Linked DNA regions of Homo sapiens. The protein of the gene in region 1 purifies or fractionates together with the protein of each later gene. This does not show direct contact. Each region holds a gene or a part of one and is shown in the gene's direction. Other genes may lie near its edges.

Region 1 (7,025 bases):
TTCTGAGGATAATTAATAGTTTCAGGGAAAGAATACTAAAAATGAATTCCCTATAATGGGATCCAGTATTTCATAGTAAATATTGTGTGGGTGTGTATGTGGGAGGAAATCTGGAAGCTTTATTTCTAAAGTAAAACTTTAATATTATAAAAATAAGTATTTTATAATTGCACCTGTGCATTAATTATTTACATAAACAAAAATGGAATCAGACGTTGATTGGTTTTTGACAGCATAATTTCCCCCAATAAATAGTATAATAAAATTATAGATGTGCTCATTTCATGTTTGACTTTCACTGTGCCATTATAATAGAGGCCATTTTTAAAAGATTAATAATGACCTCAGTTTTTCTTAAAGCCGCTCAGATGACAAATTATTCTCTTTGTATCACGTATTATGCCATCATCCTGGCCACTTGTTAGTTGGTCTGACCCTTATTTGTTCACAGACTCACTTGTAACTCAGGCAATTCTCCAGTTTCTTTCATTGAGTTGAGCTTCTGTATAGTTGGCAAGTTTTCCAGTTCATCTTTGCATTGGGTCTGCAGTGTGCTATCTGAAGTATCAGACGGTCAGTAAGAGAAACCAGCTGGCAGTGAGCAGAAAGATAGGTGTAAAGCAGACAGGGTCTTGAGTGGGAACTCTGTTTATGAAGGGTCAGTTCTTTAGAAATCATTTTCATGTTTAATCACTTTTGCTTTGCTGCTAAGCTTTGTGACTGATCATGAGACCTGATAACACAGATAGTGAGGACTCCACCCCATAATATATTTCATCATCATTCCAGCAACTGTCTTTAATAGGTTCTTTTAAGTATATTTGAACATTAAACAAGTTAAAATCAAATTATATATTGATATTCTTGAAGGCCCTGAGCAAAACATCGATAAGAAATTAGGTGAGTTAGGAGAGTATCATAGCCTCGTGTCTGCACTAGAAACCAGCCAGCAGGAATTTTGCATATACCTGTCAATTAATGGCAAGATTAAATATTAGTGAACCATTTCTGTGATGGACTTCATTTGATTTTAAATATTGCTCTGGAGAATGTTAAACTGAAACCGTTTCCAGATGACTATGAAGATTAGTGCTCAAAGCATCATTTACATGATGCCCTTCCCTTATAGTGATCATTTCATTCACTCTATTTCCTAAAGGCTGCCCTTGGAGCTGGCTTCTCTGACAAGACTCCTGCTCACACTGTCACCATGGCTTGTATCTCTGCCAACCAAGCCATGACCACAGGTATGTTTAAATGGAAACAGACAGTACATGTTAATTATTCTCCTTTGTCTTTTACTTGATTATAAAAATGTACTTTTTTTTTTTTTTTTTTTTTTAACACAGAACCTCACTCTGTCACTCAGGCTGGAGTGCAGTGGTACCATCATAGCTCACTGCAGGCTCAAACTCTTGAGCTCAAGAGATCATCCTGCCTTAGGATCCCAAGTAGCTGGGTCTACAGGTGCTCCACCACACCCAGCTAATTTTTAAATTTTTTGTGGAGACGGGATCTCGCCATGTTGCCCAGGCTGGTCTTAAACCTCTGGCCTCAAGTGATCCTTCTACCTCAGCCTCCAAAGTGCTGGGATTACAGGCGTGAGCCACCATGCTCATCCCAAAAAGTACTCTTAACAGAAGTAAAAGATTAGCACAGATCTCTATACTTGTGTTTTTTAAAAAGTAAGGTCAGGTTTAAAATTTGGGGGTTCTAACCGTAGTTAACCTCTTTTTTTGCTCTCCATACCTGAGGAACATTACCATTGGCGTGGTTCCTCTGTGAATAATGTGGCTGGCTGCAGCAGGGATTATCAACTGGAGGAGTGTATCTCTAGGAAGGTACTTCAGCATCTGAGGCATGAGTAAATAGTTTACAACCTGCCAGGCTTTCAACCTAGGTGCTTCAGATATGATATTTTCCCACAAAGATATGGTCTTCCTTCCTTCACCACTACCATACTTGTAAATCATTGCTTTAGATGGCACAGCTCTTTCCTTCACTTTCTCCTTACATCCTTGTCATTTTTATAAATCACTGAAAACCCCACTAACAAACTTTAGCAAAACTGTGGGATATTTTGTAGCATCAGCTCTTAGTGTGAGGAGGCAAGGAAGCCTGAAAGATTTAGTAATCATGTGCTCATCTAGTAACATCAAGGCCCAGGTGGGCACCCCACCTCATGTGTGGCGGGGAATGATGCCCGTGACTGGGGGCGTTCGCCACTCTAGGCAGCATGTGACCAACTCCTGGTTAGAGAAACAGAATACTGGCCAGTGGCCATAAGGAGAGAGGGGGCCTGCCTTACGTTTCAACAGCTGTAATTTCTCTGCTTTGCAGCAGAAGTTAACATTCTCTTTATAGGATAAAAAATCTTTATTAAAACTAAAGCTGGGAGCATATAAATATGCAAGATGTTCTGGTTTGGAATATGATTTGTTCAAGAGTTGGTCCAATGGATATTCCTAGAAGTTGACGTCCATATGGCAGGAATGAAACTTGTTTTTCTCTAACGTGTTGAATGTGTTTTTAGTCATTTAAGAAAATTACCTTAATTCTTCTGAAAAGTTGAAAACTTTAATTACAGATGTTGTACAAAGCTGATAACTGTCATTCAGCTTTTTAATCAAGAAGCTTAAATTGGAATGGTATGTTATTTTCTGTAAAAGATATTCATGAAGTATAACCTGTGCCCTGTAGGTGTTGGCTTGATTGCTTCTGGCCAGTGTGATGTGATCGTGGCAGGTGGTGTTGAGTTGATGTCCGATGTCCCTATTCGTCACTCAAGGAAAATGAGAAAACTGATGCTTGATCTCAATAAGGCCAAATCTATGGGCCAGCGACTGTCTTTAATCTCTAAATTCCGATTTAATTTCCTAGCACCTGAGGTAAGGCTTGTGTTTGCAGGGCATCCCACTGCAGAGATTTAGAATTAGGTATGGCAGTGTGGACTCTGCTATGCTGTAATAGGTGTAGATTCTGTAGTTACAGGAAAGGGTTAATTACTTGCTCAAGATGGAAAAAAAAGATAGTGGTTAGAAAACTTTAATTTGTGAGCCCTCTTTAGAGATCCTCTTTAGAGATCCTCTGCTTGTCTTGGACTTGATTGATTAATGGTAGACAAATAGATTTTAACTTTTCCAAATAACACAGAACAATCCTAGGTGTTAGCATAACACCGGTTAACAGTGTACCTGCTCCTTGGATATCTCCTTTCCCAGCTCCCTGCGGTTTCTGAGTTCTCCACCAGTGAGACCATGGGCCACTCTGCAGACCGACTGGCCGCTGCCTTTGCTGTTTCTCGGCTGGAACAGGATGAATATGCACTGCGCTCTCACAGTCTAGCCAAGAAGGCACAGGATGAAGGACTCCTTTCTGATGTGGTACCCTTCAAAGTACCAGGTGAAATGAAATGCTTCATGACACTTATTAGGGAGTTCTGAATTGCTCCTAAAACTCAAAAACATCCCGAGTGATTTTTCCATAAGTATGTTGGTTCTGTTTCCAAAGTATTCAGCCTTTATTCTTAAATATGGATGCAAATTTTGATTTATGTTGTAACAATAGGTTAACATTTTTTAATGTTTCTATAAGAGTGTCCTTTTAAGATCTGAGCACTAATCTCAGCACTTTGGGAGGCTGAGGCAGGAGGATCGCTTGAGGCCAGGAGTTCAAGACCAGCCTGGTCAACAGCGTGAGACTTCATCTCTAATTAAAAAAAAAAAAAAGAAAAACAGAGTCTCCTTTTAGATCTTGCTGATATATTTTAGTTCTTACATACATGCCTGTTTTTAAAATTCCTGAATCGTCTGACTTCTGTATAGAATAGCCAACTGTGAATGAATGTCTTAAGAAAATAGGGTGTCCTATTTTTAGTAAAGCATTTAGATGATTTCCCAATTGTCTTTTAAGACTTTAGTTTAAAATTTGATAATATGATAATTATAAAACACTTTCCTTCTAGTGAATAGGTAAGGTTTATATTTCATTTGTTTTTGTAATTTTTAAAGCATATTTCTGTGGAGAAGATATATAAGGCTTGTGGTTCCATAGAGTTAAAAAAATTCATTTTTTTAATAGGAAAAGATACAGTTACCAAAGATAATGGCATCCGTCCTTCCTCACTGGAGCAGATGGCCAAACTAAAACCTGCATTCATCAAGCCCTACGGCACAGTGACAGCTGCAAATTCTTCTTTCTTGGTAACTGTCAATGTTATTTGTATTTAGTAGTGACTTTTCTATTTCTGTACTCTCTGTAGAAAAGCCTAATATAACTTTTTGTGTGTGTTATGAATAGAGGGTTAAAAATATAGTTATTCATTTTAATGTGAAAGTGGAGTCATTAAAAAAAAAATAGAATCACGGTTTTAAGGCCCGAGAAGTCACCTAATCCAGCCACCATTCTGCCACAAAAGCTCTTCCTTTCAGGCACTTAACCAGTCAAAAACTTCTATTGCTTATGGTGGGCCCTGGAAATGAAAAGAATAGACAATTGCAATATAGTGAGATGCTGTGATGGCTGTAAGGCTTAGGTCGAACCCCTGACCCAGATGGGGGGACAGTCAGAGAGTCTTCTTGGAAGAGGTAACACTTGAGCAGCAAATCTTGAAGGAAGAGTAAAAGCCAACTCAGGAAGGATTTTAAAAGGCATTTCAGGCCGGGTGCGGTGGCTCACGCCTGTAATCCCAGCACTTTGGGAGGTTGAGGCAGGCAGATCACCTGAGGTCAGGAGTTCGAGACCAGCCTGAGCAACATGGAGAAACCCCGTCTCTACTAAAAATACAAAATTAGCCAGATGTGGTGGCACATGCCTGTTAATCCCGGCTACTCGGGAGGCTGAGGCAAGAGAATTGCTTGAACCCTGGAGGCGTGGAGGTTGCGGTGAGCCAAGATCGCACCATTGCACTCCAGCCTGCACAAGAGCGAAACTCCCATCTCAAAAAAAAAAAAAAAAAAAAAAAAAAAAGGCATTTTGGACAAAGGGAATAGCAAATGCAAAATCAAGGAAGTATGAGAGCAAGGGGTTCTTTGGGGAAAAGTTAGGTTGGAGCATAAGGTATGAACTGGGAAGTCGCAGAAGACAAGGAAAAGCAGGCAGAAAGAGTAACAGGATACCTCTTCCAGCCCTGATTGTTAGAAAACTGCTTTACACTGACCCCAATATTATTTTCCTGTAAGCATCATGGAACAAATCTACCACTGTTTGTTTTGTGTTTTTTTTTTAACTTATCAACATGTAGCTTCATATCCTTCCATGCTTTTCTGACTCCTCAATTAAACATCTTTATTGATTCTGCTGCTGCTTGTAAGATGTGATTTCTCTTCTCTTACCACCTTGGGTATAGTCTTCTGGATATAGGCCATCTGGTCAGAGTTTCTCTTACAATGTAACTCTCCTACCTGGCCATAAAGTCTTGAAAACATACGCAGATGTTTGACATATTTGCCCATGGTAAATGACTAATTAATGCCTGCTCTTGATAGGCTAGGGGAGTGGAATCTGGAGTAGTTCCAACAGGATGGAACACCACCCTGTTAAGCCCAGGTGGTGAAGAGCTGGTTAGGTTGGTCATTTGCAAAACCGAATTGGATGATAGAGCCATGTGGCATGGACTACACTTGCCAGATCTGAATCCTTTTGATTATTTCCAGGGTATGCTAAAGGTCCAGGTTTATTTAGTGAGAATCAGAGACACAAATCATCAGAGGTGACACATCACAATACATGGATTTTGGGGACTGCATTAGTGCCCCACATTCATTGCAATTTTGCACAATGGCACATTGAACCTGTTATTAATGTAATGTCTGTAAACCATTTATTCCATATGGTCACCTATGTCTCCAGACTTTATGGACACCCTATTGGTGGCTACACAGTCTCTTCAGGGTTGCCGAGTTATAAAAATACGACAGAATGTGGTAGAACTTATTTTGATTTTACAAATTATGAAGAATAGTTTCCTTTTCTTTGGAATTCTGAAGTTTTTGGGGGAGCTTTTCTTCTTTGAAGTATGGTAAAGGACGTTTTTTCAGTAGTACTTCTTTGTCCTCCAGCTTCTCGGTTGTCATTTGGGAAGAAATGTATGGGGTGTATCCAAAGAGGGAAGATTGTGGTTCTAATGTCCTCAGCTGGTTCTCCCATTGGTTTGCTCGTTACAGAATATATAAGTAGAATAAAATGACCTGTAAGCCACGGGCAGAAAGCAGCTGAGAGCCCAGAAAATGTAAAAATAAATAAATAAGAGATATGTTTATTTTGGTTCATATTTTGTGCCACAAGCTAAAAACTTTGGCTTAAATAAGTGTTTAGTGTTTATTATGAGCAGTTCTTTCTTTTTTTTTTTTTTTTTTTTTGAGACAGAGTCTGGCTTTGTCACCCAGGCTGGAATGCAGTGGCACGATCTCAGCTCACTGCAACCTCCGCCTCCCAGGTTCAAGCAATTCTCCTGCCTCAGCCTCAGCCTCCCAAGTAGCTGGGACTACAGGTGTGTGCCACCACACCTGGCTAAGTTTTTCTATTTTTAGTAGAGATGGGGTTTCACCGCGTTAGCCAGGATGGTCTCAATCACCTGCCTCATGATCTGCCCGCCTCAGCCTCCCAAAGTGCTGGGATTACAGGCATACAGGCATGAGCCACCACGCTTGGCCATGAGCATTTATTTCTAAAGTTACCTCTTCTGTTGATTCATTTTGATTATTATGATACTTTTGAACAGCCTTCTCTACCCTCATCCTCCAAAAATGAGTCAGCGTGTGTATGTTTGAATTATGATTTAATGATGGATACAGTGAAGTAAGTGTTGTTATATAGAATCACTGTATAAGTCTAATGAGTTAATAGATTCAGGTACAGATATATAAGATGGCTGGAGAAAGACCTCCAGACAGGCTGAAGAATTTTAACATTGTGCTGGTTAACATTTCAGACTGATGGTGCATCTGCAATGTTAATCATGGCGGAGGAAAAGGCTCTGGCCATGGGTTATAAGCCGAAGGCATATTTGAGGTAAAGTAAATGTT
Region 2 (7,025 bases), on another chromosome or scaffold:
AATCATAGCTTATGAGTAGTGATTTAAGGAAGGGCAGGGAAAAAAGGTTCCAGTGAAGGTGGCAGGGGGGATGCACATGTCAGCAGAAATCCTGGTTGTATGGTAATGTTATCAGCTGCCCTTTTGGAGCTCAGCTTGAAAGTGTGACTAAAGCTCCTCTGGCTGCTATAAAGCTAGTACTTTAGACTTAAAGCATTGTAAGGCAGATGCCTCAGAGTGGAAAGTTGCCCGGGCCTGGCCGGGAGCTAGTGGAGCAAGTTACAGGAAGAACTAGTGCCTAGAGCTGGGGGGTGGAGAGAGCACTTGTGCCTCACCCTTTGCCTGTCAGTTGTTCAGCGTGTAACAGTTCCCTGCTTCTTAGGTTCTTTCTGTACCCTTTTATAAGGGTGTATCCCCTTTTGGTAACTTACTGTTTGTTAATTTGTAGTGTTCCCTGCCAGTAAGCTTGTAACACTCTAGTGACTCACCTTCGGGTGGGAGGGTAGGAAAGGGAGAGGCCTGCCTCCTAAACCTGGGAAGATGGGGAGAGAGTGGTAAACCTGAGAGCCCAAAAAACAAACCAAAACAAAAAAACAAAAAAAAAGATGCCTTTAAAAATTCAGTTAGATGTTTGCCCAGATGAGGGCTAACACTTAAAATATACAGATTCCTGGGAATGTTATTCCTAAATTGCATTCAAAAATAAAAGTGAACTCAACATCTTATAGCACAATAGGCTTGGCACTCATCCATGCTCCATGCCAGTACCCTCAGTCATTGTTTTCGGATTATTTTAGCAACAAATGAACAGATAAGTGACTTTCCATTCAAATCAGGCTATGTTCTTTTAAATATATCTAAACTTAAGAATAAGAAAGGCTTTAACTAAAATAGCTTTGAAGGATTTTGTATGGTAAAGTAAAATTGGTTTCTTCACTTAAAAACAAACAGGTTTAAAAGTAAAATAAAATAAAAGCCCTGAAGCTTCAGTTTCTCATCTGGCTTTTGGATAGAATGCTCATCCTGGGGATCAAGTGAAGTAATCTATGTTCTGTTTATGGAAGGAGTGCTGTGCCAGCCTGAGTTGTGGCTATTGTTATTGGGCTTACATAGGTACAGTAATTAGAGCCAAGAGAAGATCAAATCTTTACAGACTGGGTTTGTTGTTCGTCAGTAAGTCATTAGCCCTTGCAAAATTAGAGAGCAGTTTTTCTTTCACCATGAGAACATATTAAGGTTTGAAAATAATGGGAAATACTGTTAATTGCCCTTCATAGGAAAGTCAAGTAGAGGTGTCAATTGACATTATTGCAACTGTTATCTTCGCTCAACAAGCAAATCTCCTGTTTAATAGCATCTTTCTGTCTACTTTCACTTCTCAGGTGAAGGACTTTGTTCGCGGTTGATGATCATTTTTACGTTTTTGAAGTCTTGCAAAATAAAATGGGCTTTTCGGCCTTCTGTGATGAGAGGGAGCCTGAACATTTGTGCTGTGCTGACTTCTTCTAGCTGCCGAGGGCTCTCTGCCAGCCAACAGGCTAGAAGAAGAAACCCGAGTGTCAGATCAGATGGGCTCACAGTAATCAGAGTGGCTGGGTTTGGACGGCAAAGCACCAGGCAAAATGTTTCCCATCCCTGCCAGAGCTGTCCAATTCTAGATTACACTGAAAGTACATGTCCAGTACATGATAATGTGCAGTAGAGAGAACTGTAAAACCTACTCACTCATTTTAAAACTCTCCATTTATATATTTTGGGGGAGGGATGTGGAACCTAGTCAGGTCTGAACTTTCTCACGTTGCTATGAATTGAGTGTATGAGAGGAAGTGTGTATTCTTTGGCTGGAGTCATAGAGAGACTGTTCTTAGCATATGACTCACCTCATTAGTTGTGCTGAAATCTGTTGTCAGGAATCCACAAGAAGTTCTTCATATTTATTTTGTGTTTCGGATAGCAGATTCTGTTACGAAAGAAGTACCCTTCACCCTACACTTTCTCTTTGGTTTGGTTTTTATTTGCATCCTGAGCAAAGGGATTTTTGATCAATAGACCTCATTCCTTTGTTCCTTTGTGACTTTACAGTGAATCTCTTTATCTGGTTTTAGACCTCACTTACTAGTTCCTTTGTGAGTTATGATGAAATATATCTGCACGTGATCTCTTTCCAGTTTTATTCAAACCCTATTTAGTAATGACTATTGGCTGTCTCAGTGATTTGATAAGTTGATTCATGATAGTTCGTGCTTTGTCCTTGGGACTTGTATTGTTTGGGAGCCTGATAATCAGTGTAAGATTTTGTGACTCAGTGGGCCTTGCTGTGTAGATCGGTGAGCTGTGATTGCTCTTTCTAGTCTGTTACCATGTAGGGGCAGGTCCCTAATGCACTTTGGGGTTATCCTCTTGTGTGTTTCTTTTATCTTCCACATGATGCTTCCATGGCACCATATTTGTTTTATTATTTCAATTCATGTGACATTTCTTTAGGGCCTTGGACAGCCTTTATCCTCTTCAGCCTGGCAGTCATTTTCCTTCCTAGCCTAGGCTTCAGGGTACTAATTGAGGAGTGATCAGGACTTACTGGGAGTTGATCTGGTCCTCTCATAACGCATATGCTGATTATTAATCAGTTGTCTCTAACCAGAGCAATCTGGTAAAATGAAAAAAAGGAGGGTAAGGTGGTCAGCAGAAAGGGGGAGTTAAGGAATAAGTAGAAAGTTTTAACCCTTCATAACCCATGCACCTAATGTAGAGGTAGAATTTTCCATTGAAGAAACTGAAGTTTTTGTCTGATTGTTCTTAATAACTGTAAAAGCAAAAATATATCTAAAGTGCACTGATTCTTTACACCTTTTAGAATTTTTATTTTTTGAATGATCATGGATGTACACTACTGCAGGTAGGGTAGGCTGTCAGGCTCATTAAGAATTGACATGCAGGCAGATTGGGGAGGAAGGTTAAGTCATGTTCTTTTGGGTTGAGGGAACCTGCTGGCTAGAACTGTCGCTGTTCTTTGACCCTTGCTGGCTGCTGGGCTGCCCAAGTTTGGATATACTAAACTGGGCTCACAAAGGGATCTACTGCTTTGGCCTTGGTAAATTATATTCTCCAGGATGCATATTTGGGTGGGCAAGAGAAGGAATATGAAGGCATGGTGGCCCCTCAGGCTCACCTCCTCTGCAGAGAACTGCTGCTCCTGCAGTGATGTGCTGCTGCTGGGGCTGGATAGCAGCCATGGTACTATGACAGTGTCCTCCCTCAACCCCGGCCATCCCTTAGCCCTCCAGTCCCTGGCTAGACAATTCCTTGCACATAAACTAAACTACTTAGTCATTTAGGAGCAAATGGAGATGTAATAAACTGGGCTAGATCATTTCTTGACTGTTATTTTCTTTAAGTTTTCACTGTTAAGATCAAATGAAAAATAATGCCAAAGGAGTTTTTTCTTCAAAGGTTTGAAAAGAATTTTCATAGAAAGCGAAAAATGGCAGTAATGTATATGTTAATTAAGACCAAGTTATAATAATAGCCTTTGTGTAGTGCTTTGAGAATACTTTTACATACACAATTGTGTTGGATGATTTAATAATGTATCGACCAGGAAAATGAGAAAGCACCCCTCCCCCTTACCTTTTACATTGAAGGTAGCCCAGACTTGGCAGCCTCTAGGGAACCAGCAAGGTCAGAGTCCATCACACAACTTTCCTGCTAAAGTGGTATTTGCCAAATCATGTCCAGAGGTGTTGTTTCTACAATCTTCTTGGCAACTCCGAAATGGGCTGCATTTGGGGCACTTCCTTTTGCCATCCTTCTGGCCCTTCTTGCCCGTCAAAAGCTTTTGTCTGTGGGCTTTGGAAATAGTCCAGTTTTTAAGGTGTTTTATTTTTCAGAGTTAATGGTTTCTTGACTAATCAGACTATGAAAATGCCTTCTCTAGGTTCTTTAATAGTTATACCAAGTGTTATTCCCATTTTAGGAATGAAGAAACTAAGGCTGACAGGCAAAGGTCATGTAGCCAGCATGTGGCAACACTAGAATAAATTGGCAGACTCAACACCATTAGCAGACCTGTCTGGAGGGAATGGTGGGTCTTGAACTTTCAAGTACCCTCTAAACTTTTTCAGCAGGAATTTCAGAAGTCTCAAGAATTCTGAGCTCCCTGCTGGCCATGGGACATTGTGCTGATATGGTGGGAAAAATGCAGGTTGAGAAAGCCTTCGCATCCTGCCCTGTTGGAGGCTGGTGTTTGGGATGGGTATGAAGGCCTTTGGCGGTGGCTATAGCTTATGCAGACCTGAAGCAATATACCTCTGGGATGGAAGATCCTGCTTATTTTGGGATAATTTCTAAATCTGTCATATCTATCCCCAACCCTGTCCCCATTAAATGGCTAATTGCCAAAAAAGAGGAAGCAACATCTTCAGCTCTAGCAAGTCTCGGGGATGTCTCACTCATTGTGAGGACTGTGAGGATTCGGTATATATTTTTAAGTGAGTGAACCTTGTTACATGTTTTAACCTTGGTTCCTCCTGTCAAGAATTTTATCTTCTCATGTCTTGGGCACCTTTTCCCTCTACCCAGATCAAATAGCAAAATGCTTAGTTAATCTTTGAGAGGATAGAATCCATGGGAAGCACAGGATGAAATGATGACGCTGTGCTAAGCTGTGTCACCGTGGGTAAGCCCCTGCCCTTGCTGTGACTTTCCACTTCCTAAATTAGAATGGAAGGGGGAAAAAAAAAAACCATAACCCAACTTCATTTTTATGAGTGGCCCTTTAGAAAATAGTGTAATCCGTTGAGTTTCCATTGTACCTTTCCTCAGAGATGCTCAAAGGGGCGGGGGTGCCCTTACATGGAACATGATGAGAGTGAGGATTAATCACTCCCAGTCCTCTGGGAGGGGGGAAGTGACCTGAACTTTCTAATTGAAAAAGTAGGAAGTGTGTGCCCAATGCCCAGATGAGTGGGAAGATTACTGTAGTTGATTGAGGAAATGCCGTATTTATCATTCACCCTTCCCATGACCTTTGTTTTTCCCTAATGCCTTAAAAAATAATAAGGAAACATTGTCCTACCTGATTCTACCACTGTTCATCTCACGCAGTGTGCACTCCCTGACTCTGAATTTTGCAGCTTTGAGACTGAGGTAATTGAGACTGATAGGGATTTAAGGATATTTGGTTCCCACAAGAATAAGCTAATATTAAGTTATTATTTTACTTGTGGAGAAGAACTAAATTGTATAAGCTGCCTGGTTCTTCTAGACACACATTGCCTAGTGAAAAAATTAAAATTTTGAAGAAAAAGCAGTTTTACTTGTTAATACTTGCCATGTGTCTCACCCACAAATAGCCTCATTTAAAACTTTGCCTTACCTAGCATGAATGGATAAAGAAAAAGGAGAGTTATTAGGGAATCTAAATTCCCAACTAACTTTAGCACTGATAGTGGTGAAGCTATGGGCAAGACATTTATTTTGTAAGTGGGGGTAAAACTTTGGAACGTGTTCAAAGCCTAGCTGCTCTAGTAATCCTCTCTCCTCTTCTGGAGTGGAAGATATTGGAAGTCTGAGAATAAGCAAAGCATGCAGATTATGAAGCTGAGGGGTTATAACTATTTCATTTATTGAAATATATTTCAATGATATTCAACTTGCTCAGAGAGAATCCGTGAGCTGTATTTTAAAAATCAATACAGGCTGGGCACGGTGGCTCACGCCTGTAATCCCAGCACTTTGGGAGGCCGAGGTGGGTGGATCATGAGGTAAGGAGTTCAAGACCAGCCTGGCCAAGATGGTGAAACCCCGTCTCTACTAAAAATACAAAAATTAGCCAGGCGTGGTGGCGAGCGCCTATAATCCCAGCTACTCAGGAGGCTGAAGCAGGGAATTGCTTGAACCCTTGGGCGGAGGTTGCAGTGAGCTTAGATTGCGCCACTGCACTCCAGCCTGGGCGACAGAGTGAGACTCCATCCCCAAAAAAAAGAAAATTAATACAAAGTGGTCACATAAATCTTTTAGAGATCCTTAGTCAATGTCTTTAAAATGTTTTTTAAGTGTTGTGCTTTCTCATTAAAGGTATGATATACCTTTAATTAAAGCTAAAGATATACCACTTTAGCTGTGGTTCCTTTCTGGTAGATGACCTGCCTTTTCCTTTTTGTTTTATTTGTCCACTTGTATGTGTTACTATTTTTCATTTAAACTCTGGCACCAAGAGCTGTACCGAAAGAGGCACCAACAAATGTGGTTGCTCCATAATGGAGAGAATGTCAAGAATGTTGACTATCTTTAGACCTGCTTCATTAATAGATAAGATAGAAACTAAAGAACCCACCCAGTTGGAAGAAGTTATTAGTCAAGTAGTGCTGCACACGTGACCACAGAAGTTAAAAAGGTAAATAATGTGTCTCTACATGTGGCCCACTCCAGTGAATTTGGAGAAGGATTTCTCCTTGGAGTCTTAAGAGGATATTTTTAAATTTAAGTGAACAATGTATTTTATTTGCAACTATTAGTTATGACTGAAACACACATAATACGTTTTGATTTTCTTTTTTCATTTCAGCACAGTGAAATTATAATCTGGACACGAGTTCCTAATTATTGCTTTAGTAGCTGGTAATGCACTTAGGAAAGTTAGAAATGAGTAAAGGAGAACCACAAAATAATAGTAATAGCACCATATGTCATGCATTTTAAGAAAATTGCTAATGTCTACTTTTTGGCCTTAAGTTGTAGTTGTGGGAGGCTGCTTCAGGGGGAGGTGTCTGGAACAAGGGGCTCTTCTGCTCCGCTAAGCTTTGGAGCACCAAGTTCAGGCTTTGTGTAGATAAGCTCAAGGATTTTTCAACAGGGGTGGGGGAGTGGAACAATCTAAATTTAAACTATAGAATCAACATTTTCTTTAAAAATTGTTCCAGTTTTCAAGAGGCGTAGGTGGATCCTGTGAATTATGTGATAATGCACACGCTTTTCCTACATCCTGCTTATGTCAAAACATTTCCAGAGACTTTCATTTTGGAGGTTTTATTTTCAGGCTACAGAAT
Region 3 (7,025 bases), about 210 Mb from region 1:
GGAGAGCAGTTGGCCCTGGGTGTGTGGCGGGCCTTCCCAGCCTCTGCCCCAGGGACCAGAAAAGGCAGTGGGTGACAGGAGACTTAGCTCATGAAAGAGGGCAGTGTCGGGACATATTGGGCTCCCTTTTGAGACTTCCTTTGTCCTCTGGACAGCCAGGCCAGGCTGCAGTGACAGCAGTGGTCATCCCATTTTATGGGCAAGGAAGCAGGCCTGGGTGCCACCAGCTGGACGGTGGCACTGCAGCAGGGCACCCGGCCACCCTCCCTTTATGCCAGGGCACGGCACAGAAGGCAAGGGCGGAGCCGAGTGGCACCCCGGGTGCCCCTGCGCTGCCAGGAGCCCTCATGCTGAATCACTGCCCGCGTGCCAGCAGGCCTCCTGCTTTTGCTTGCAAGGTTGTGTCTGGGCATAGGTGTTCCCAGAGCACCTGTCTGGCCTCCTGATGTCTGATGTGATGTGATGTGTGTCTGTTTGCTCCTTTGCTGGGGTCTCAGCGCCCCACCTTGGCACCTGAGCTCCCTGGTCGCTGGGACCACCTCTAACTGTTTCCCTGTTGTAGCCACAGAACCCGGCTGGCTCCCGGCCCAGGATAGCTTCTCGGAGGACACCCCCAGGCCTTCCTGGCTTTATACCTGGCTGTGCTGGGTGGGGAGCGGGACATGGAGGGTAGAGGAGGGTCTCCTTGGAGCAGACACCCCTGTTCTCAGGGTCTCCCAGCCTGAGGCAGAGGAGGGGCCCTAAGGTCTAGTTTTGGGGGCAGAAGTCAGAGTGGGGCATGGGACTGTCGGTGGCACAGAAACTGCCCAGCCGCTCCTGTGCCCAGAGTGGCAGCCCGCCTACCAGCTGGAGCGGGCACCAGCGTGCCCTGGAGCCTGTACCAAGCACCCACTCGTTGGGCCCCTCCGAAGGAATCTTTTCTTCTCTGTGCCACTTTTGACCGCCTGGGTGGTTGGCACACAGACTCTGGGGAACCATCCTCAGAGGGCCTGGACCTCTCCTTCCCACATCCCTGAAAGGGTGTTTCCGGCTGGGCCCGGGAGAGCCCACCAGCATCTGCTTCTCAGTCCTGCTCAGCGGGCCTCTCGGAGGCTGCCTGGCACACAGCCCCTCACCAGACCAGACAGTTCCCTGTGCCCTGTCCTGTCCAGGTGGCTCAGCGTGGTTCCCAGGTGGTCCTCAGCCTTTGCTGTGTCGCTGCTCTTCCCTCCATGAGAGGAGCTCATCATCCCCAGCGTGAGGACCGAGCGGAGCCCAGGGGAGCCCTGATCCGACAGGGCCACCTGCGTGATGCAATGGCCTGGGTCCCTGCTGGACCGCCAAGCCTCCCATGCCAGGCAGGCCACAGCACTCCTCAGGCACAGATGCCCCCACCCCCATCCCATCCCCGGTGTCCCCGGGCCTTTTCACAGGAGAGAAAGGGAATAATCGTGACCTCCTGTGAAGGTGGCCAGGAGGGAGAAGGTGCTGGGGCTGTGCACCTCGTGGGCAGCCTCGGGCTGTGTCCCCCCTCTCCCCGGACACCCTCTGCAAAGGCCCACACACACCCCTCTCAGTTAATGGCATCCGGTACCCTAAGAGCACTCATGAACCCGGGTGCTCTTAGAACACGGGGAAACCCGGCTTGTGGAGCGTTTCCCATGACTGTCTGGTTAACACATCAGACGGAAGGGGTCTTTGTAGACCTGTTTTACAAATGAGTAAACCGAAGCCTGGTGAAGCGCTCCTCTTAGGGCCAGATCTGGCTACAGCATTGACCACTGCCCAGTAAAGCCAGGCCAGGCTGCTTGTCCCAGGCTCTGCACTTCTTGGAAGGCTCGTGCTTTTCCCAGCCCGCTCTCCTGTCCTGGGCCTGGGCTCCATCTCTTAGGCTCATTTAGAACGTTTAACCGGGACTCCTCCTGGCCTCCCTGCCTCCGGTCCTGCCCAGCTCCTCCTGGCCTCCCTGCCTCCGGTCCTGCCCAGCTCCTCCTGGCCTCCCTGCCTCCGGTCCTGCCCAGCTCCTCCTGGCCTCCCTGCCTCCGGTCCTGCCCAGCTCCTCCTGGCCTCCCTGCCTCCGGTCCTGCCCAGCTCCTCCTGGCCTCCCTGCCTCCGGTCCTGCCCAGCTCCTCCTGGCCTCCCTGCCTCCGGTCCTGCCCAGCTCCTCCTGGCCTCCCTGCCTCCGGTCTTGCCCAGCTCCTCCTGGCCGTGCCGCCCAGAGAGTCGTACTTCCACACAGCTGGGCCTCACCCTCCGGCCTGGCTCCACTGCCTGTGGGGGGCAGGACTGCTAGGAGGGCTGTTCCCAGCGTGTGCCACGAAGCCCTGCATGTCCCCAACAGGGCAGACCAGCCACCCACACTGGGCCAAGTGCCCCAGGATTAGTGGACAGGTACCCTATTCAGGTGCCCACAGGTGCCAAGCCAGGGAGATAAGGCAGTCCAGTCTGTTGGGGCTTGTACCTTCACACCAGCAATCTCTAGGGACAGTGTGAGCCTGTGGTTAACGCGCCTTCCCAGGTACCGAGGACGCCTCCCTACAGCAGGACGGGGGGCATACCTACCTGGTGGCCGAACCGCAGGGCTGCACATCAGACCTCGGAGGAGAGCTTAGTGGGTGTCTGAGCATGCCCATGTCTGTTCTATGGCATCCATGTGCATGGCACAGGTGTCAGCCATGGGCTGGCACTAGACAGGAGACGAGCCAGGGGAGGGGCTCACCCGAAGCCACACTGGTCAGGTCTGGCCTGGGGCCCCACATCTGCCGTGCCCGGGCCAGTGAGAGGCTGGACGCCTTTTCTTAAGCCAGACCGTCCTCACAGGGCCTGGCTCAGTTATTTCAGATCAAGACTGGACCCGTGGTGGAGGCTGGGGTGGGCACTCCTACATGCGGGGCCTCTGCCCAGCCCTGGCCCTGTCCAGTGTCGACGTGCCCAGAGCCCTGAGCCGGCCTGGATCTTGCCAGTCGCCAGCACAGCCCTGTGGGGCCCGGGATCTTGCCCACTTTACGTGGGGGCTCCAGACAGGAGCCGCCTGCCCGGAGCCTGGGCTCCTCGCTGCCGTGCCTGTGGTGGCTTTTCTTTGTCTGGGAACAGGCCTGGGCAGGTGCCCTGAGCCGCTTGAAGTCTCCTGACGGGGTGGGGGGTGCAGTGTAGGGTGTTGAGGCTTGGGCCAGGGAAGCGGGCGGTTCTCCCTCCACCTCCAGGCCCCACACCCAGGCGGGAGCACGCAGCAGCCAGGTGTTGGGTGAGGGCTATGCTGAGGAGCAGGGCCCAGAGCTGCAGCCTCCTTGGCTGCCCTTGGCCCGCCGTGGGTGGCGGGGAAGTACAGGTGTGAGGGGCATACCCCACTGCCCCAGGCTCGGTAGCAGTCTGGAATCCGGGTGGGTTTAGGAGCCCCTGAGAGGGCCAGGCCAGCCTCACACCATCCCCTCTCCTGCCTGTGGCCTCAGCTCCATCTCCCGCCAGCTCCTGCTGACCCACCTTTCTGGCACACCTGTCCCCTCCCTCCACGGTGTCCTCCCTGTGCCCACCCACAGCACCCGCCTCCTCCGGCCTTTCCCCACAGCTTGACTTCCCGGGCATCGGCCAACACGTACCCTCCCTGTTGCCGGGGCCCCCGCCTGGGCAGGCCTGAGCTCCACACAGGGTGGGGAAGGCCCCGAGTCCCTCCCGGTACCGGGTGGGGCTGGGTGCCGGGGTTGGGAGCACAAGTGTTTCCAGGGCTGTCGGAACAGTGCCACAGGCTGAGCAGCTGCAGCTGCAGACATGGGTCGTCCGTGGTTCTAGAGCCTGGAAGCCTGAGATCAAGTGTGCGTCCACCAGGCTGGCCCCTTCTGAGGCGTGAGGAAGTCTGCTCCACACTGCCAGCTTCCAGGTGTTCCTTGGCTGGTAAATCCCACCTTGGCCTCCACAGGCCGCTCTCCCCGTGTGCGCTTCTGTCTCCGAATTCCCCCTCTTCACAAGGACACAACTCTAATTGGGTCAGGGCCCACCGGTACCATCTCTTCTTAACGAGAGGTGTCACACAGACTCCACACCCAAAGTCACATCCTGAGGAATCGGGGTTAGGCCTCAGCCATGTGGGTTTTGGGGGTACAGTTTAGCCTGTAGTGGGGAGCTAGCCCAGCCCGGCACACCTACATCTTCCCATCAGGTGGCAAAGACCCCGAGGCTCTGGGTGTTTTGTGATTGTGGCCTCCTGAGCACTGGGCCGTGTTTCTGTAATGGGCTTAGAGCTCAGCACAGATGTGCCCGAGACCCTGGTGACAGTGTGAGGGAGTGACCACGCCCCAGCCTGCCACTCACCCCCGTCCACCTGAGGCGCTCTCTGGGCACAGCCTGGTCCCCACAAGCCTGGGAGGCCTCAGCGTCAGGCCCTGCACAGCTACTGGGTCCTTGGCCAGCCCCTCCTGCCGTGGGCCTCCGCTTTTCCCTCAGGTCCGGGTGGCAGGGCCGGGCCACTCAGGTGATGTTCCAGGTCTAGTGGTACAGCAGTGGCTGAGGATGCCGCCGCCTGTGCCGTCACAGAACTGGGGTGGGGGGCAGTGGCCAGGCTGGCCTGAAAACCTTCTCCAGGTTGCGTTGCGGGAGCCCAGGCTGGGAGAGTCGTGGTTCAGTGGTGTGAGTGTGCCTTGGACAGGCCCCAGTCTCCCACTTGTCAGGGGGCAGAGCCCTTCAGGTGGACTTTGGGCGGGGAGGCAGTGGGACTGCAGGGCGAGGGTTTGGAGATGTAGAGATGAGGGAGGCCTGGGGGCCAGGAGGCTGCACCACTGCTGTCTCCTGAGGCGGTGGCTGGCCGAGGAGGCCCGCTGCTCTCTTGTGCTGAGTGCCCCTTGGGTCCTGCAGGCTTGGCAGGGTGACAGGGCAGCCACCCAGGGGCTCCACCTGTCCTGCTCCTTCAGGAGGAGGAGACCTCCCAGGGCTGTGGTGGGGAGGAGGGCCAGCCACAGAGCCACTGCAAATCATCCCTGAGGCCAGGCGACTCGGAAGCAGAAACCCTGAGCCCAGCACGGGGCAGTGGGAGGTGAGGCCCAGCGGCATCTGTGAACTAGGCCTCCTGGTGGGCTCTCAAGGTCTTTGATGGGGCGCAGCCGGTGGACAGGGAGAGAAGGGTCCCTCTTTCCCCAGGCCCTCCCTCCCCTGGTCCTCTCCCACCTTTGAGGTGCCCCAGGAGTTCCCAGAGTCGGCAGCACCAGGGGCTGTCTACCGGGTGGGCTGAATACCACTTAGTTTGCAGATGGGAAAGCTGAGTCCCAGAGAGGGGTTCCCAGGGCTCAGAGCTGAGAGGCCTCGCCGCCTGGGGCCAAGCCCCACACTTGCTTGCCGAGTGACTCACTCCTGCTCTGGGCCTGGCTAGCAGGGGTGAGGCTGGGTCAGAGGATGGGGAGCTGGGCCAAGGCCACAGACTACCCCGCAGGTGCAGGCACCCAGAGGCCTGAGGGGCACCGGGAGCGCACAGGAGGGGAGGCTGTGAACACGGCCCGGCTTCTTTGCAGCTCCGTGTCGGGGCCATGTGAGGACACACACCGCAGGAGGGCCCGGCCAGCCTCAGCCCAGCCCAGCCGCCACGCCCGGTGGGTCTCCTGAGGTCAGAGCCAGCCCCACAGTGGGCACCACATGCCCGCCTGCTGTCCTGGCTCCTCCTGAGGGACAAGGGTGAGCTGGGCGGGCCAGGAAGTACAACGCTGCTAGGCTTCTGCTCTCGCCCCACAGAAGTTCAGGTTCTACTGAGAAACTTGGCTGGGGCTTCCGGGGACTCCCAAATCCAGCCGCCCAGGACCCTGCGGCACTGTCCATCCTGAGCCCCGTCCTCACCCGCTGGTCCATCCTGGGGTGATGGATCTGGCTGCAGTGACCCCGATGCTCTGAGGCCCAGAACAGCACGTCTCCCTCCTGGGAACAGCCAAGCCTTAGGCCCATGCAGCAGCGACCGGATCCCTAGCCTCCCCGGCAGGGGTGCTTCCTGGGTGCGCCATCAGCAGTGGGACCTGTAGGGAAGTCTGTGGCCTGTGCGCACCTTCAGACGATTTCCCCAAACACCGACGACAGCTGTCCAGTGCGTCACAGAGCTGTGGCCTATGGGTGATCGTCTCAGCCTGTCCCTGCATCTGGTGCAGCCTCAGTGCCCACTGTGGACCCCGCAGCCCACCCGTGTCTGGCGCATCCTTGGTGACTGGGGCTCCCTGTGGCTGTCTGATCCCATCCCTGTGGTAACCCATGTGTGACGTCCAAGTGTCTCCTCAAGAACCGGGGCCAGGAGGCCCATCCTTGGCTCTGGAGACTGCAGGGAGAGCATCCCACCCACCTGTGACCATCTACCAGGCCCTGGGGACAAAGCTGATGCCACCTGCCACCAGGGTTGGCTCAGGCGTTTACATGCATCTCCAGTTGTCATGGAGCTTGGGACACACTGGACCCAAGGAGGTATTTTAAAAGGACAAGTCTCTCACGTAATCCAGCCCCACTGTTCCTGAACGCGATGCCCCCTCCCCGAGCCTGGCGGGGGGCTGTACACAGAACACTGCTCAGCATCTTCAGTCTCCCTCCTGTGGCCTCACACCCAGGATGGTAGGTGTTAGAACAGGTGCCTCCCTGTTCTATGTGCGTGGCCTCATCCTGTGGGCAATTTGGGGTGAGGGGTGGCTGCAGGTCAGACAGATACCTGGGAAGGTCCCCTGGGATAGGGTGGCTCCCAAGCGGGAGCAGTTGCCCTGGGCACTTGTGACATCCCAGTGATTGAGGAGTGGGGGTGCTCTGGTGTTTAGTGGGTGGGGCCAGGGAGCCCAGTAATCCTGCAAGATGGAGGTGCCCTTCCACAAACGCCAGTAGCACCCCCAAGAGAAATACTTGAACTGAAGCTATAGGCAGAACCACGCCAGGGGAAGAGGGAGCTCAGGGGAGGGGGCACCACTCAGCGCCAGGTGCTGGGATGGGAGGAAGGGCAGACTGTGGTGGCCAAACACCAGCATGCAGGAGGGTTGTTCTAGATGCATCCATCCTTCTGTGGGTGCACGGATGAGGTTCTGGATGTAATTCATGGGCTTCAT

The links. Proteins that work in one complex are often made in the same cells at the same time.
Region 2: the proteins of HADHB (region 1) and ATP1A1 fractionate together in Homo sapiens (co-fractionation; 3 studies listed by BioGRID, with this or other methods). This does not show direct contact.
Region 3: the proteins of HADHB (region 1) and GPC1 purify together in Homo sapiens (co-immunoprecipitation; 4 studies listed by BioGRID and IntAct, with this or other methods). This does not show direct contact.

Annotation. Positions count from the first base shown.
Region 1 is NC_000002.12:26,275,914-26,282,938, forward strand, and holds part of HADHB (trifunctional enzyme subunit beta, mitochondrial isoform 1 precursor), read left to right. Parts: intron 1-1,159; coding exon 1,160-1,247; intron 1,248-2,700; coding exon 2,701-2,888; intron 2,889-3,221; coding exon 3,222-3,402; intron 3,403-4,080; coding exon 4,081-4,202; intron 4,203-6,931; coding exon 6,932-7,011; intron 7,012-7,025. UniProt on the Homo sapiens protein: Mitochondrial trifunctional enzyme catalyzes the last three of the four reactions of the mitochondrial beta-oxidation pathway.
Region 2 is NC_000001.11:116,376,221-116,383,245, forward strand, and holds part of ATP1A1 (sodium/potassium-transporting ATPase subunit alpha-1), read left to right. Parts: intron 1-7,025. UniProt on the Homo sapiens protein: This is the catalytic component of the active enzyme, which catalyzes the hydrolysis of ATP coupled with the exchange of sodium and potassium ions across the plasma membrane.
Region 3 is NC_000002.12:240,438,640-240,445,664, forward strand, and holds part of GPC1 (glypican-1 precursor), read left to right. Parts: intron 1-7,025. UniProt on the Homo sapiens protein: Cell surface proteoglycan that bears heparan sulfate. Binds, via the heparan sulfate side chains, alpha-4 (V) collagen and participates in Schwann cell myelination.